Homo sapiens: one gene and its partners. The protein of the gene in region 2 interacts with the protein of the main gene of each other region in a pairwise test. Each region holds a gene or a part of one and is shown on either strand. Other genes may lie near its edges.

Region 1 (3,988 bases), about 92 Mb from region 2:
GGTAACAACCCAAGTGCCCATCAGTGGATGACAGATAAACAAAATATGGTTCTGATACACATTACAACATGAAAACATCCCAAGTGAAATAAGCCGGAAAGAAAAGAATGAATATATGATTCCACTTACATGAAATATCTAGACTAGGCAAATTCATAGAGACAGACGGTAGATGAGAGATTACCTGAGGCTGATGGGGGGTGGAAATAGGAGAAATATTGTTTCATGGATACAGAATTTGTTGGGGGTGATGGAAAGCTTTAGAAATGGATGGGGGTATGGTTCTACAGCATTGTGAAGGCATTTCATGCCACAGAATTGTACACTTTAAAGTTGTTTAAATTGCATATTTTATTATATATTTTTAACTACAATAAAAAGAAATTTCACAAAGCTGGAAAAAAGGAGGGCATGGCATCATATGTGTGCCTGCATGTCCTGGGAGGGGACTGAGCTTAGAGGAGCCAGCGGTAGGCAGATGGAGCCACTGAAAATGGAGGACTCTAAAGGCTTTATGTGGGAGTTTAAATCTCATTTCTGGAGCAGAGCAGAAATGTTTCCCAGCTGCCTATGCAGAGTGTAAGAAACAAGAATGACTCTGCTCCACTGTCTCCTGGTACCTGCTCATCACTCTGCTCCCCACTAATCAGTGTTTACCTCATGTCGTCCTCACAAGCACCCCAGGTCTCCATAGCATGCTTCCCCTCTTACCTGTCACTTAAGATAATATCAGATTAAACTGGGGTCGCTGTAAGCTTGAACTAGTTCTTGTTTAGCCTTACCTGTCTAGAGGCAGCTCCTTGATGCTCAGCTCAGCTCAAATTTACCTTGCACCAGAGCCCAGTGCTAAGAGAGGCTAGCATCAAGGCTAGCCACCACAGTCAGACCTCAGTGGATGAGGTTCAGACAGCACTGGAAGCTAGCCTTTGGGGCCATTTCACACCCGCCTCATGGGCTCACAGCCATTTCCAGCATCCCTCCTGTATATCCTTTCTCGTCCTCTTGCTTTTGGGGCCTTCTCTTCTGACTCTGCTCTCAAGCACTGCTTAGTGTCCCAGCAGCCCTCAGGGTTAAAGTGAACAAGACCAGAGGATTCTAACCTTCCGTTCTGAAATATATTATCAAAACACTTTTATTTAATAAAGAATTCCATTCACATTAATGTTAGGCAAAATATGTCTACTTTCAACTAACGATTAGCATGAATTGGAATAAAAACAGTCAAAAGCAAAAAAAAGTGATATTTTTATTAACTCAGGCAGGCTTATTACAGGTAAAGGTGTTCTTTTCAGCACCATTTCTTTGAAATATTGAAAAGGGCTCATGGGCCACCTTGACTACTTTTGAACACCTCTAGGGGCTTGGGAAACTTCTGCTTTAGTCCCTGCACTTGTGCTCCCACCCCAAACCTTGGTGCTTTCCTAGGCCTCCTGTTGTGTAGAGCCTGTGGGGTACTTAAACAGGTGACAGGAAACCCAGGACAGGACCAGGTCTGAAACTCTGGGCTAATTCCATATCTACTATGAATCCATATGAGACAGAATTCTCTTGGTAATAACAGGCCCTTCAGATGATCCCAGCAACCCACTCCTGTGGGTGAGTAGGCATTTTCCACCAAGGCCCTAGAGTCAATATCCCTGGGACCATTTGTATGACTTGGGAGCCTTGAATGTGAGTGTTTGGGCCATACTGGGCTAGCCTTGCTGATACACAGGAGCTTTTCTGGGAATGGGTAGAGCAGTGAAAGTCACCTGAGATGCTGGAGAGGGTGTGATGTGCAGCAAGAGGGGGCTCTAAACTCTCACCAAATGGTGGTGACCTGGAAGGGAAGCATGAGAGGGGCTCATCGTGACCTTGTTACTGAGTGCCTAGAGCACAGGGCACTGCCCAGGGGTTGGGCAGGAGAGGACTCAGATGAAGGCAGCACCCTTGAGGCTCCAGGGCCACGGGCAGTTGGCTCCTGAGAGACACTCTTTGAAGAGGGCTTCACAATGAATCAGGAGAAGAACCAAGGAATAGAAGGGTTTATAAAGAGCAATAAGGAAAATGGCTGAAGCCTAGCCAAGGCTTAATTCTGTGCAAAGAACTGACTGAATTGTAGTTACTGGCATTTGTGTAGTAAAGAATTTAATCTTGGCTAAGCACAGTGTCTCACGCCTGTAATCCCAGCACTTTGGGAGGCTGAGGCTAGCAGATTTCTTGAGCCCAGCCTGGGCAACATGGTAAAACCCCATCTCTACAAAACAATAACAACAAAAAGAATTTAATCTTGTCCCCAAAAGATCTGGCCTTCATCCTTAACACGTAGGGGGCGATCTGTAAGATACCATACCTGATAGGAATGTCTTTGTTTGGCTGGAAGCTTTAATGCACACCAACAATGTGATTTAGGGTGAGGAATGGCCATACCAAGTAGACCAGCCATGTGATTTCAGGTGAGAGCCTAGCCCGGGCAACATAGCAAGACCCCATCTCTACAAAAATGAAAAAATAAAAGTAAAAAAATTAGCCAGATGTGGTGGCACACACCTGTTGTCCCAGCTCCTCAGGAGGTTGAGGCAGAAGGATAGCTTGAGCCCAGGAGTTTGAGACTGCAGTGAGCTATAATCATGCCACTGCCCACCAGCCTGGGTGGCAGAGTGAGACCATCTCAAAAAACTAAAAAATAAAATAAGGTGGGGGCTTGGATCATGCCTGGAGGAGCTGGAGACTGGAGCCTGAGATCAGTCCTATGGGCATTCAAATAAGTCAGTCATGCTCTCAGGGTGGAGCTCCAATGAGAATTCTGAATACGGAGGCTCCAGTGAGCATTCCTGATTGGGTGTTCTGTGTGTGTTGCCATACAGCAATGCCAGGAGAGTAACACATCCTGACTCCACGGAGAGAGAAGAATAGAAACTCTGCGTTTGGACCCTCCTGATGTTAACCTATGTTGTTTCCCTGTGATAACCAGCAATCTTAAGCACAACCACTTTCAGTGAGCTCTGGGAGTCCTAGGCAGTTATTGCATCTTGGGTGGTTTGGGGAACCCCAGTCTTGCAGTTGGTGTCAGAAGTGAGTGCATCTTGTGTAGACAGTGCGCTGTAATTTAGCAGTGCGTTTTCAGTAGAATGACATGTTTCTTGGGGGGTCTCTTACATGCCCGTCTCTCTTTTGTTTTGTAGTGTTCCACTGGCAGGCCACCATCATGGGCCCGGTAGGTAGTAGCTGCTGAGCGCACCACTCCAGTTTTGCTTCTTGCACTTTGGGCTTAGCACATGCACTGATCTCTTTCTGTGTCTCATCCTTCCAGAATGACAGTCCTTACCAAGGAGGTGTTTTCTTCCTGACCATCCACTTTCCTACAGATTACCCGTTCAAGCCCCCAAAGGTGAGGTCCCTCTCCCAACTCCCCTGATGTTTGGATGAAGGACAGCATGTGACAAGGGGCCCTTCAAGTCAGGTATAGGTAAAAAGAGCTGTACGTGGGGTTTCTCTGAGGGCCCACTGCTCCACCCTGTGGTGAGAGTTTCCCAGGACTTTAATTACTGGACTTTGGGAATTAGCACCTGTTGTGATCAAGGGTCAGTGGGGTGAGCTGGTGCTGGCCTTACTGAGGCCACAGTTTGAATGCTTCTCCTTGTGACTGTAGCTGAGTCTGGTCATGTCTCCAGGCTCTGGCTCCCTTCTCTGCAGTCCCTTAGAGTTAGGACAGGGGTTCTCAGCCGGGGTGATTTTGCTACTGCCCCAGGGACATTTGAGCAACATCTTAGGATATTTTGGGTTATCAAAACCGTGGTGAGGGAGTACTACTGGTATCTAGTCGGCAAAGGCCAGGGTATTCCAGGGATTCCCTGCAGTGCACAGGAGAGCCACCCTTCCCATGACAGATAATGATCAGCCCCAAGTGTCAATAGTGCCAAGGTGGACACACCCTGGTTTAGGACTGGTGAGTCACACCTTCACTTTTCTTTATTAAGTTAAAAGAATAGCAAGCCTCCTTTGCCCT
Region 2 (3,988 bases):
AACATTGGCTGATTTGTGTTATTGAACATTGGTTGTAGCAACTTTTTTCCTTTTTTCCCCTTTATTTTCTGCCTCCCATATTTTGCTTAAGATTTTTTTCTGAAGTTTTAAAGTTTCATCAGTTATTTGGGTGGACCGTCTTGTGAATGCTCTAATTGAAGTTGTATAATATAAACAGTGTTGCTTTTAGTAGTTAGGATTAATTTTTCTTTTCATGGAAATCCTTTCTATTTGATTATATTTTTTCCTCTAACTTTTATTAATTCTTAGATGAGAATTAGGATTCTGCATTAAATCTTTCTGCACACATTTTTCTTACTGTCAGTAGGGACCTATGTCTTCCTTGGGTAAAGAAAATGTTATATTTTGGTTTTGCCATTTAAAATGATATAAAGACGTTATTAGTACTTTTTTAAAAAGGAACTTTTGGTATTTTTAAACAAGTACAAAAGTAGGTATGAACCACCATGTACCTGTTACTCAGCTTCAAATAGTATCAAATCTTAGTCATTACATTGTTTCATTCGTACTAGAACTTTTTTTCTTTTTTTTTTTGAGATGGTCTCTGTTGCCCAGGCTGGAGTGCAGTGGCATGATCCTAGCTCATTGTAGCCTTGAACTCCTGGGTTCAAGCAATTCTCCCACCTCAGCCTCTCAGGTTGCTCTGACTACAGGCACAGGACCATGCCCAGCTAATTTTCTTATTTTTTGTGGAAATGGGGGCTCACCCTGTTGCCCAGGGTAGTCTCAAACTTCTGGGCTTAAGTGATCCTCTTATCTCAGCCTCCCAAAGTGCTGGGATTGCAGGTGTGAGCCACTATGCTGTGATATAATAAAATGTCTTTATTTATTTATTTTGAGATGGTGTCCGACTCTGTCACCCAGGCTAAAGTGGCAGTGGTGCCATCCCGGCTCACTGCAACTTCTGCTTTCTGGGTTCAAGCGGTTCTCCTGCCTCAGTCTCCCAAGTAGCTAGAACTACAGGCGTGTGCCACCATGCCCAGCTAATTTTTATATTTGTGGTAGAGACAGGGTTTCACCATGTTGGCCAGGCTGGTCTCAAACTCCTGACCTCAGGTGATCCACCTGCCTCAGCCTCCCAAAGTGCTGGGATCACAGACGTGAGCCACTGTGCCCTGCCAAAATCAGGATTATTTAATCAACTTTTCTTTTTTTCTTTTTTTTTTTTTTTTTTGAGATGGAGTTTTGCTCTTGTTGCTCAGGCTGGAGTGCAGTGGTATGATCTTGGCTCACTGCAACCTCCACCTCCCGGGTTCAAGCAACTCTCCTGCCTCAGCCTCCTCAGTAGCTGGGATTACAGGCGCCCGCCACCACACCTGGCTAAGTTTTTGTATTTTTAGTAGAGACAGGGTTTCACCATGTTGGCCAGGCTGGTCTTGAACTCCTGACCTCAGGTGATCTGCCCGCTTCGGCCTCCCAAAGTGTTGGGATTACAGGCCTGAGCCACTGCACCCAGCCTTAATCAATTTTTCAAACAGACTTTGCTTATGGAACCACTTCTTGGAAAATTTGGCAGAACTTCTTTGTAGAGTTTATCTTGTCAAGAATACTTTCATAATGATATAATTAGCACTGTCCAAAGCAGTGTACAAATAATGTGTGCTACATGTAGTATGAGTCCAGTCTGTTTGTACAGGGATATCTTCAGACTAAAGTCCTAGGAGTGAGGCTTCCTGAAGAAGATGAGTCTTGAATAAAGATTGTGTACTGTTTGTATAGGCTAGCATATCCAGAAGGAGAACATTATGTACGTTCTATATAGGGAATGGAAGCATGTCTTAGTTCATTTTATGCTGCTATAACAGAATACCACAGACTGGATAATTATAATCGACAGAAATGTATTTGGCTCATGGTTTTGGAGACTGGGAAGAACCAGAACATGGCACTGGCATCTGGCAGGGCCGTCATGCTATGTCATCCCATGGTGTAAGGTAGAAGAGCAAGAGAGGGTGAGAGAACAAGAACAGAGAGGGCAGAACTTGCTTTTTATCAGGAACCTACTTCCATTACTATGGCATTATCATTGATGAGGGTAGAGCCCTCATAGCCTAATCACCTCTTTTAATGGCCTCAACTCTTAATACTACCACACTGGCAATTAAATTTCAATATGCGTTGTGGAGGAGACATTTAGACCACAGTAAAGAATGAGCAAACACTTGATAGGGGCTAGCATGATGTGAGAGGGATGTAAGGAGTCTGATCTCAATGGAATAAAGTGTTAATTACTGGGAATGGTGGCAGATAAATTTGTATTAGTAGGGTAGAGCTAGATTATGAAAGGTGTATTGGTGTCAGGTTGAATTTAATCTGCTAAGCAATAAGAAGCCAGTAGAGGTTGATAGGGAGCAGGAGAAAACATGAGAGTGTTTTTCAGAAAGATTACTCGTTCAATAGTGTGCAGCATATTTTGGGGATGACACTTGAGGTTTGTTTGAAAAATTAGAGACCAAGCCACTGAGGTAAGGAGCTATTCTGAGAGACGTTAGGATGGAAATTCTACAGGATTTGTCAGATAATTGATTCCATCTTCTCTTTAGTCCCTCATGCCCTAAAGTGACACCAAGGTTTTGAAGAGTAGAGAACTGAGGAAATGTGGTCTATTTGTCTTTGATAGTAAACTGCAATTTGTTATCCAAGCCCAGCTTTTGCGAAGAAAGTGATAGATGATTACTCCAATAACAGCCTCAAAAAGTTTTAGTAGGCCTGGTGTGGTGGCTCACACCTGTAATCCCAGCACTTTGGGAGGCTGAGGTGGGAGGATTGCTTGAGGTCAGGAGTTTGAGACCAGCCTGGCCAACATAGTGAAACCCCGTCTCTACTAAAAATACAAAAATTAGCTAGGTATGGTGGTGTGCCCCTGTAATCCCAGCTACTTGGGAGGCTGAGGCTAGGATAATTGCTTGAACCCGGGAGGCGGAGGTTGCAGTGAGCCAAGATGGCACCACTGCACTCCAGCCTGGGCTACAGAATGAAACTCTGTCTCCAAAAAAAAAAAAAAAAAGGTTTAGTAGAAAATAGCTACCAGTGTTTCTGAATGATTTTAAAGATATTCACTGGAGAATAGGAGCTTGGAAAATAAAGAAATATTATCTTTATTACAGTAAGAGAAATGAACATACTTCATTTGTAAAAGAGAAATTTAGGCCTTACCTGCTTCCTATGTGTATATTAGTTCAGAACGGTTATTAGGAGACTACTCACATTTGAATAGCTATAACCAGTAAATATTACTGGATGACTTTAATAATGGCCTGATCAGAGCTAAAGAAAATTCTGATGAAGTAGGGCATTAAATATTTCTAGCTACCAACTCCCTTTAAGGATGAATAAAGGTAGGTCCGCAGGCTGAGGAAGTATACAGGGAGATTGTGAAATGAAAACTTATCCTTTCATTTACTTCGATATCTTTGTTTTGCACAGGTAATATTAAAAAACAGGTCTGGTTAAACATCAGCCGTATATGTTTTGGTTGGAATTTTTTTTTTAAGTTCTGTGAACTTTGAAGTTTTTTTAAAATTCTTTGTTTTGGTTTGTAGACCCTGCATTAAGCCAACTTTCTGGATCTGTTGTGTATTTCTGGATAGCATACTTTGTTTTGTGAAGGAAAATTTTACATTTTATTTTAAAGCTGGGGGAAAAAAGTAGGTTTCTTGTTTCTCGCTTTGTAAATGAGGTAGATGAATAATACTGTATTGCCACTTATTATCTTCATGCTTCCTTCAATGTCTCAGGTATTCCTCTACTGTATGTAGCATGTGGATCTCAAAGTTTCCCACAGTTGAGTCTGAAAACATCTCAACTGTGCTTATAATTTTAAAATTAAACTTAATTTTACCATTTTCTTTATTGTTATTATAAAATATAGGACCTATCATAATGCCATGAACCTTTTAGTGACTTGGGAAATAGTGATTAAGATGATGCAACATAGTACATTATTGGGAAATAATCTGTTTTTCGT
Region 3 (3,988 bases), on a different chromosome or scaffold from region 2:
AATGAAACACAAGAAAACTCAGCAAAACCAAAATTATTCAGACTGGGATGATTTCTCTAAAATCCCTTCCTGTGTTTTAATTAATGAAATATTCTTTAATTAGTATATAGTTATGTCTAGTACATACATACCCAGGGTGATCTTAAGATAGATTTAATTGAATTGTGTATGGCTTTATACATGTTTTAATATATTTTGATAGCATTGATATTTCTTTTCCCGATAGTGTAAAAGTTTGATAATGACGTTATTTCCAGTGATTTGATGTTATTTTAAATGGTTTTAGGTATTGGAGGGCCATGGGCCATAGTGTACTAAACATAGGGATATGTTTATTTATTGGTTTCAGTTTATGCTGTTTACATAAAGTATAAATAATTTATACATCAATGAGAGTCAAGGGAAATTGTGTTATGGGCATTTCCCTATTTGTATTTATTGAGAATTGTTGACTAGAATTGTTTAGTGATGTGTTATTAAGACATTTACTTTCCATCTGTTTCCCAGAGGGTGTCCTTGTCCTCTCCTAGTCACCACTTGTGCAAACAGCGAAAGTTTAGAAAGGTACTGGATTTCTAACTTAACCCCTAATTTCTTTCCATATAGGAAGAAGCACAAATATACTGACGAATATTTTAAGAGTGTATGTTCAGATTGAATCTATACTGGAGATATTTGGGGGTATTTGTATTAATAAATAGTTTCTTGATGTGGGAAAGGCCATATTGGGGGATATGTATTACAGTTTCAAGTTAATAGTATTAATATATTGACTAGCAAAACCTGAGATCAGGTGATTTCGTTGACTTTCTTCTTTAAAAATAAAAAAATAATGAAATCATAAAAGAAGCAGTTGTTTCTAAACCAGTAGTTGATAATCTCTAGATTCCTCATTAGCCTAATTGTCTGAGGATAAATTCTGCTTTCTTCTGAGGGTTGCTACCACTTTCCATCATTTTCTAGGGCGGACTAGAACTTTGCTACTTAAAAGAGTGAGCTGCTGACTGTCAGCATCTGCGTCACAGATGAGGTTGTTAGAAATGCAGACTCTTGCTTCCCCCAACCCCCAACCCAGAATTTGAATTTAACAAGATTCCTGGTGAATTGTATATATAAGTAGGTTTGAAAAGTGCTGGTACTGGAGCAAGACTGTCTGGTTTCAGATCCATGCTCTGTCACTAACTTGCTATGTTATTACCTTAGATACATTTTGGAATATTTCGGTTCTTCTCCTCAGTTGTAAAGTGGGGATTAAAATGATACCCCCCTTTATAATAGGGTTATTGTGAGGATTAAATGACTTAATGTGTTTAAGTTTTGTAGCAGTGTAAATCGAGTCAGTAAAGTGGCCACAGCAAGATAAAAATGGGAGAGACAGTGTAGCCTGTAGTGATGTGCTCTCACTGTTGCTGGCATTTTCTCTAGTGCATTGACATCTTATGTAATTTTATCTTAGTCAGTTCACCAGATAATTGAGTACAAGTACATAACAAGCAATTTGTTTTTTAATGTCAGTAAAAGCAGTTCCTAGGAACTTGCGTAAAAAAGAAAATTAGCCTAAAAACTTCAGGCATAGATGAACAAATATTGTATTCCTTTTAAAGGAACATGCATAAGATTAATGATATTTAATTCAATAGAGAATATTATGATTGTCCAGTAAAGTATAATAAACAATTTTTAGATGAGTAATGATTATATTTTCCCCTTTTAAAATAGAAGAATTTGTGATTTTACTGTGAATGGGATTATATCAGCAGTTGTAAAATTCACATTCTGGATTGCTGTTACCTGCATTACCTAACCCCATAGCATTCTTTCCATGTCTGTGAACTAAGGAGAAATTTTGAAAGCTTTTTTCTAATTGGCGTATGAAAGCAGGTAATAATTGAAATAACATGTGATCCCTATATTAGCTTTGTTGGTTGCTTATAGAGTACTTGGTTTTAAACTCTCTCACACATGTAGATAGACTGCTTTTTCTTCTTTACTTAATACATTTGATTGTTTTTGTTTTAGTGTTTGCTACAAGATTGTATCTCATTAGTTATCTAGTCCTTTTATTTTCAATTCTTCAAAAAAAAAGGTCCTGGAACCCGCTTTTTATAAAAATTAAATCTTAATTGGAAGCTCGACTGTAAAACAGATAAATACAGAACTACTCTGACAAAGTATTTTTCATCCCATTATGCCGTGGGTGGTCATCTACAGATAGTTTGTATTATTAGTTTTATTGTTAATAAATTCATTTTGGCATCAGCATAAACCTCAAAAATCATGAGGGTTTTTCTGGGGACTTGGGCGTTAGTGATAATTTTAAATGGTTTATGATCAAAGCAAATTGACGTTTTATTTTTCAACAAGCTAATAGTTTCTTCAACACAACTGTAATAAAGTACTTTTTTCATGCTGTATTATAATATTTGTCTGCTTTCTGCAAGAGCGAGTGTTCCTTGAATGGAGAGATTGTCTCATTCATTTTTGTATCTTTTCCTTACTTCACATGGTGCTTTGCATGTGAAGGTCTGTTAATAAATAAATTGAAGTCTCTCAAATTGACATAGAAATAGCAATTCCAGGCAAAACAATGACTTCAGAGAAAATTTATTAAATATCCTATACATTCTTTACCTTTTTCATAATTATGATACTTAATATTTAATAACCTATTCAAAGTTTACCTAGCTACTGTTTTTGCTTATAAGAGGAAATTGATACTCACAGTAGGCCTAGTTATTTCCTCCATACGTGCCAGTGTAGCAGAAATACTCAGTACTCTGTGTGACTGGAAACATTTTCCAAAAGAGTGACCAACTGAAAATAATATTCTTCCCACTAAACTTCACATTTTTATTAAGGATCTATTAAGTTCAATGCAGATAATGTAATTAGAAGGTGGGTAAAACAGCATGTGCTTTTAAAAAAAGTTATATGTTTACTTCGCAGCTACATGCTCACATAACCAGTCATATTCCTCTCATAACCAATTAGTACTTTATGCTCTCCTTAAATGAGTTGCTGTAACAACAGATGGATATGTTTACTTTTCAGGAAAATCAGCAAGTCTTGCATAGAGTGTAAGGACATTCAGATTGAGAATGAAGAACTTGTCCTTTCAGTCTCTTCTTCCCTATCAATATGAGATAAAAACATAATAAAATCACTTGTAAATCTAGAGAAATAGAAAGTGATTTTTTTTTCCACATACCAATTTTGACAGGTAAGTATATTTGGGCATTTTAATTGGAATCTGGAAGCTGAAACATCTTCAAACTTTTAACCTTTCTTTTGCCTTTTGATCAGTGGTTCTCAACTGAGGCAATTTTTGTCCTCCCCTTCCCCAGCCACCAGGCTAGGCGACAATTGGTAATGCCCAGAGATATTTTTTGCTTTTCATAACTGAAGGAGAAGGGGGCTACCACTGACATTAGTAGGTAGACGTCAGTGGTACTGCTGAATACCCTGTAATACATAGGACAGACCCCCACAATAAAGAATTATCTGGGCCAAAATGTCTAGTGCTGAAGTTGAGAGACCCTCCTATAGATATTTGTTCCTGTACTTTGCCTCTTGAATTTTTGAATAGTTTGCTTTTGACTGTTTTCCTGTCTTATTAGTGATGCATCCTTAATATATTCACCTACACCTTCCTCAGCTGATTCTTCACTTCCTGCTACTTCTATGCGTAGTTTACATATGTCTTATATTATTTGTCATACGTGTGTGTTATTTTTTATGTGAAACCACAGGAATGACTACCTTGAGTACTTGCTAAATTATGGTCTTCTGAGGCCAGAAATGCTTACAGCAGTATTTTATTTCTTTTAGGTCTTGTGCCAGTTAATTATATCCCTGCGTGATCTAGCTTTAGGCTGGTTATATCTATTATGTTCTACTAGGAGTACTAAAGTAACATCATGGAGAAATAACATTGGACAGTCATCAAAATTCAGTTTGACATTGAATTACACACAGGTTAGAAATGTGT
Region 4 (3,988 bases), on a different chromosome or scaffold from region 2:
TACAGCCTGGGTGACAGAGCGAGACTCCATCTCAAGAAAATAATAATGAAATAAATTTAAAATATACATATAAATTTAGGATACCCTTTAAATGTATCTGAATCCTCTGTACACTTCTGACACTCTTGTCATTCCTGCTTAAGGGTTAGTATAGCATAACATTTATGTATTTCTACATTTTAAAACCCCTCTTAAATCCCTATGAGGGTTTTCCTTTTGCATTCTGTTTAAAGGAGAAACAGCTTTGCCCTAGAGGTTAGGGAGTTATTTGTGTTTTACAGTTTTCTTTCCTTTTCTCCAAATTGAACTGATTGTCATTTTTATTAAATTAGTATTTGGAGAACTTTTAAGATAATAGTTCATTTTTTAATGATAGGTTATTTAGAATCTGAAGCACTCTAAGCCACAGCATGTGAAATAATAGGTTAAATTGGTTTTGTTTTGTTTTTTTACTCATTTGTTGCTTATTGCTGTTATATTTTCTCCTCTCACCCACCCCCAACACACACACACGTTTTAAACTTTTATGTGTAGGGCAAAGCAGTTTGTGGGTACAAGGCCTTCTATGTTCCTGTTACGCTTAAAGACTATAGAAAGGTGAGACGGTAACAACAGTATTTAATAAGAAAGTTATTAAGAGATTAATGTCAGCGATATCTGTACATAGTCTTGCATGTGCCTCATGATTATTAGATTTTATTTACATTTAAATATAATGATTTATTATTAAAAACTAGAGAATGACTATATTCTGTGTACTTCCTTCATCTTCCTCTAACCCTCACCATTCCCCTTACATTCTAGTTGTCTGCTACTAGTGTTTCTTGTACACTTAGTATAAGACTAATCATTCCATTTAAAGCACTAATAAACTATGTTTTTACTGTAATAGTTGTATAATATTTAACCAAGATGATAATACAGAAATCAAGATTTCCATGAAATACGATAAAATTCAAAAAACATTTACTAGGTACCTAGTATGTGCTACTTTTACTGTGCTAAGTGATAAGTTACAAAGATGAAGAGGAAATTTGCCTTGGCATTGAGACGATCTGGCATTAGAGAGATCTAAGCTCCAAAGAAACCTTAAAAAGTGTTTTAGGCCAGGTGCAGTGGCTCACGCCTGTAATCCTACTACTTTGGGAGGCCGAGAAGGGTGGAGCACTTGAGGCCAGGAGTTCAAGAGCAGCCTAGGCAAAATGGCTAAACCCTGTTTACTAAAAATAGAAAAATTAGCTGGGCGTGGTGGCGCATGCCTGTAGTCCCAGCTACTTGGGAGGTTGATGCACAAGACTTGCTTAAACCCAGAGGCTGAAGTTGCAGTAAGCTGATATCACGCCACTGCACTCCAACCTGGGTAATAGAGCAAGACTCTGTCTCAAAAAAGAAAAAAGAAAAGTATTTTAAATACCCATCTACACGTTTTATTATTATTAAAACGGGTAAATTTTATTCCGTAGTGGACATGGTTCTATGGGCTTTACTTTGTTAATTCTACTACTATTAAATATTTTACTTTAGGTGTTTGGGACTTTAGTCATAATTCTTCTATTCCAATTTCCTTTTACACAGTCAGGAGTGGTTCCATAAACTGAAGGTATTTAAATCCAGTATGTCATTAGATTGTAGTGGATTAAAGATAATTTCTGATATTGAGATCACAGGACTTTCAGTAAATTCCACTTTATTTGCATGCCTTTGTAATATATTTACATTGTTCAAACTTTTCAGTTTGTATCCCATTCCTAAAACAATTTCGTAAGACTTCTTTTGTATAGTTTCTTTTCCAAGAACTGTATCTCCCTGATCATTTGTCAGGGAGATAAATGATTTAAGCAAATAGAATTGAGTATTTCTTTTTTCTAAATATGTATTTTTTGAAGACTTTTCTGATGATTCTTGGGTTCTAATCAACATATACATAAAATGAGTTTGTGAAAGTATCTGCTCTAGTAGTACCAATTCCATATGAACATAGATTTAACTTTGTAGAATCATCCCTTCCTTGAAGTAGTCAGGCATCTAATTTCATAATATTCATTTTTTAGGAATTTTCTCAAATTGTGTCCACAGATTGACTTGGAATACCTAAATGTCTTGACTGTCTTATGCTCTAATGTTTCTTTTTGTTAAATGAAATTACTAATATTAACACATAAGAGCATTGTGAGGCTCAACTAGACTGATAGTTACATATATGAGTTTTAGAAGTGCCAAATGGACTAACTGTTTTCCTTCCTGCTATCACAGAGTCCTACTCACGATTGCTTTCTGGTTAGACTTTCCTTAAATGATGTCATACCAAATTCACTTATTTTCATTAGCCTCAGGTAGAGGAGAGGATTCCCTTAATCTCTCATTTTCATTAGCTTAGCTAAGCAGATTTAAGTCTGAAAATAAATCCTGCATATACACTATACAATATTTAATGATAGGAAAATAATCAAGTTATTGGAATGATTCCGAAAGGCATAAAGGAGACTAAAGGATAAGGATATCTATCATAGTATCTATAAACTTTAATATAGCTTTAATATAAATTTGATGTTTCCAAGTCTTTGTAGAGGGTAACATTTTCTTTTGTCTAGGCAGTATGCAACAAATTTCAGGAAAAGTCTCTTCCATAATATATCTTCAGTGTTGTTGGCATCACTTTATCTGCGGTAGCTCCCTTGCGGAGCTGCCATATATTTCTCATATATTGTTCTAGTCAGGGCATATGTTCAGCAGAAAGGCCAATTATAGTAGAAATGCCAATATATATTTTTCCCATTTTTTCTCTTAAATATTGTTTAGAAACTGAATCTTCTGGTCTATCTTTGATGGTATTCTATTACAGTAAAAACAGTTCTTTGTGGAGGTTTGTACATTGCTATACTTCTCCCAACAAATCTAGTTTAGTAGACTTTTCTGTTTTGTTTTGAGACGAAGTCTGGTTCTGTCACGCAGGCTGGAGTGCAGTGGCGCAATCTCGGCTCATTGCAAGCTCCGCCTCCCAGTCTCACGCCATTCTCCTGCCTCAGCCTCCTGAGTTAGCTGGGACTACAGGCGCCCGCCAACACGCCCGGCTAATTTTTTTTTTTTTTTTTTTTGTATTTTTAGCAGACAGGGTTTCACCGTGTTAGCCAGGATGGTCTCGATCTCCTGGCCTCGTGATCCACCCGCCTCGGCCTCCCAAAGTGCTGGGATTACAGGCGTGAGCCACCGCGCCTGGCCCTTTGTTTTATTATTTATTTATTTTTTGAGATGGAGTCTCACTCTGTCACCCAAGCTGGAGTGCAGTGGCACCATCTCGGCTCACTGCAACCTCCACCTTCTGGGTTCAAGCAATTCTCCTGCTTCAGCCTTCCAAGTACCTGAGATTACAGATGCCCACCACTGCGCCCGGCTATGTTTAAATTATTATGTGAATTTGACTTTTCTCATCAGTCCTTTTTCATTCCCTTTATAATTTATTTAATTTTTTGTTTGTTTGTTTTGAGACGAGAGTCTCGCTCTGTTGTCAGGCTGGAGTGCAATGTCACAATCTTGGCTCACTGCAACCTCTGCCTCCCGGGTTCAATCAATTCTCCTGCCTCAGCCTCCCAAGTAGCTGGGATTACAGGCACGCACCACCATGCCCAGCTAATTTTTTTGTATTTTTAGTAGAGACTGGGTTTCACCATGTTGGCCAGGCTAGAACCTAACACAGACCACACTCAAACACGCTTATTATTCCTTTTTTAAATTTAGGTGTTAAGCATACACATTTCCTGGAATACATTTATAGTTTTTATTCTTTTAGATATACTATTCATGTTTATATTGTTTTTTATGCATTCTGTTAATTTTTCTTAAGCTTTTATTAAAACTGTCACCCTCTCAGTTTTTCTGTTTTTCAACCTATTTAAATTATTTTTTGTTTCAGAGACGACCACCGGATAATTCTTTTTATGTGCGAACATGTAACAAGAATCCAAAGAAAACAAAATGGTGGTATCATGGT

What was found. Proteins that work in one complex are often made in the same cells at the same time.
Region 1: the proteins of CNOT4 (region 2) and UBE2D4 interact in a two-hybrid assay, tested with the Homo sapiens proteins (one large-scale study listed by BioGRID and IntAct).
Region 3: the proteins of CNOT4 (region 2) and UBE2E3 interact in a two-hybrid assay, tested with the Homo sapiens proteins (3 studies listed by BioGRID and IntAct).
Region 4: the proteins of CNOT4 (region 2) and UBE2W interact in a two-hybrid assay, tested with the Homo sapiens proteins (one large-scale study listed by BioGRID and IntAct).

What each region holds. Positions count from the first base shown.
Region 1 is NC_000007.14:43,939,662-43,943,649, forward strand, and holds part of UBE2D4 (ubiquitin-conjugating enzyme E2 D4), read left to right. Parts: intron 1-1,233; exon of another isoform or gene 1,234-3,164; coding exon 3,165-3,196; exon of another isoform or gene 3,197-3,292; coding exon 3,293-3,370; exon of another isoform or gene 3,371-3,988. UniProt on the Homo sapiens protein: Accepts ubiquitin from the E1 complex and catalyzes its covalent attachment to other proteins. In vitro able to promote polyubiquitination using all 7 ubiquitin Lys residues, but may prefer 'Lys-11' and 'Lys-48'-linked polyubiquitination.
Region 2 is NC_000007.14:135,500,024-135,504,011, reverse strand, and holds part of CNOT4 (CCR4-NOT transcription complex subunit 4), read left to right. Parts: intron 1-3,988. UniProt on the Homo sapiens protein: Has E3 ubiquitin ligase activity, promoting ubiquitination and degradation of target proteins. Involved in activation of the JAK/STAT pathway. Catalyzes ubiquitination of methylated RBM15.
Region 3 is NC_000002.12:180,986,831-180,990,818, forward strand, and holds part of UBE2E3 (ubiquitin-conjugating enzyme E2 E3), read left to right. Parts: intron 1-507; coding exon of another isoform or gene 508-564; intron 565-3,988. UniProt on the Homo sapiens protein: Accepts ubiquitin from the E1 complex and catalyzes its covalent attachment to other proteins. In vitro catalyzes 'Lys-11'- and 'Lys-48'-, as well as 'Lys-63'-linked polyubiquitination.
Region 4 is NC_000008.11:73,805,649-73,809,636, reverse strand, and holds part of UBE2W (ubiquitin-conjugating enzyme E2 W), read left to right. Parts: intron 1-3,910; coding exon 3,911-3,986; intron 3,987-3,988. UniProt on the Homo sapiens protein: Accepts ubiquitin from the E1 complex and catalyzes its covalent attachment to other proteins.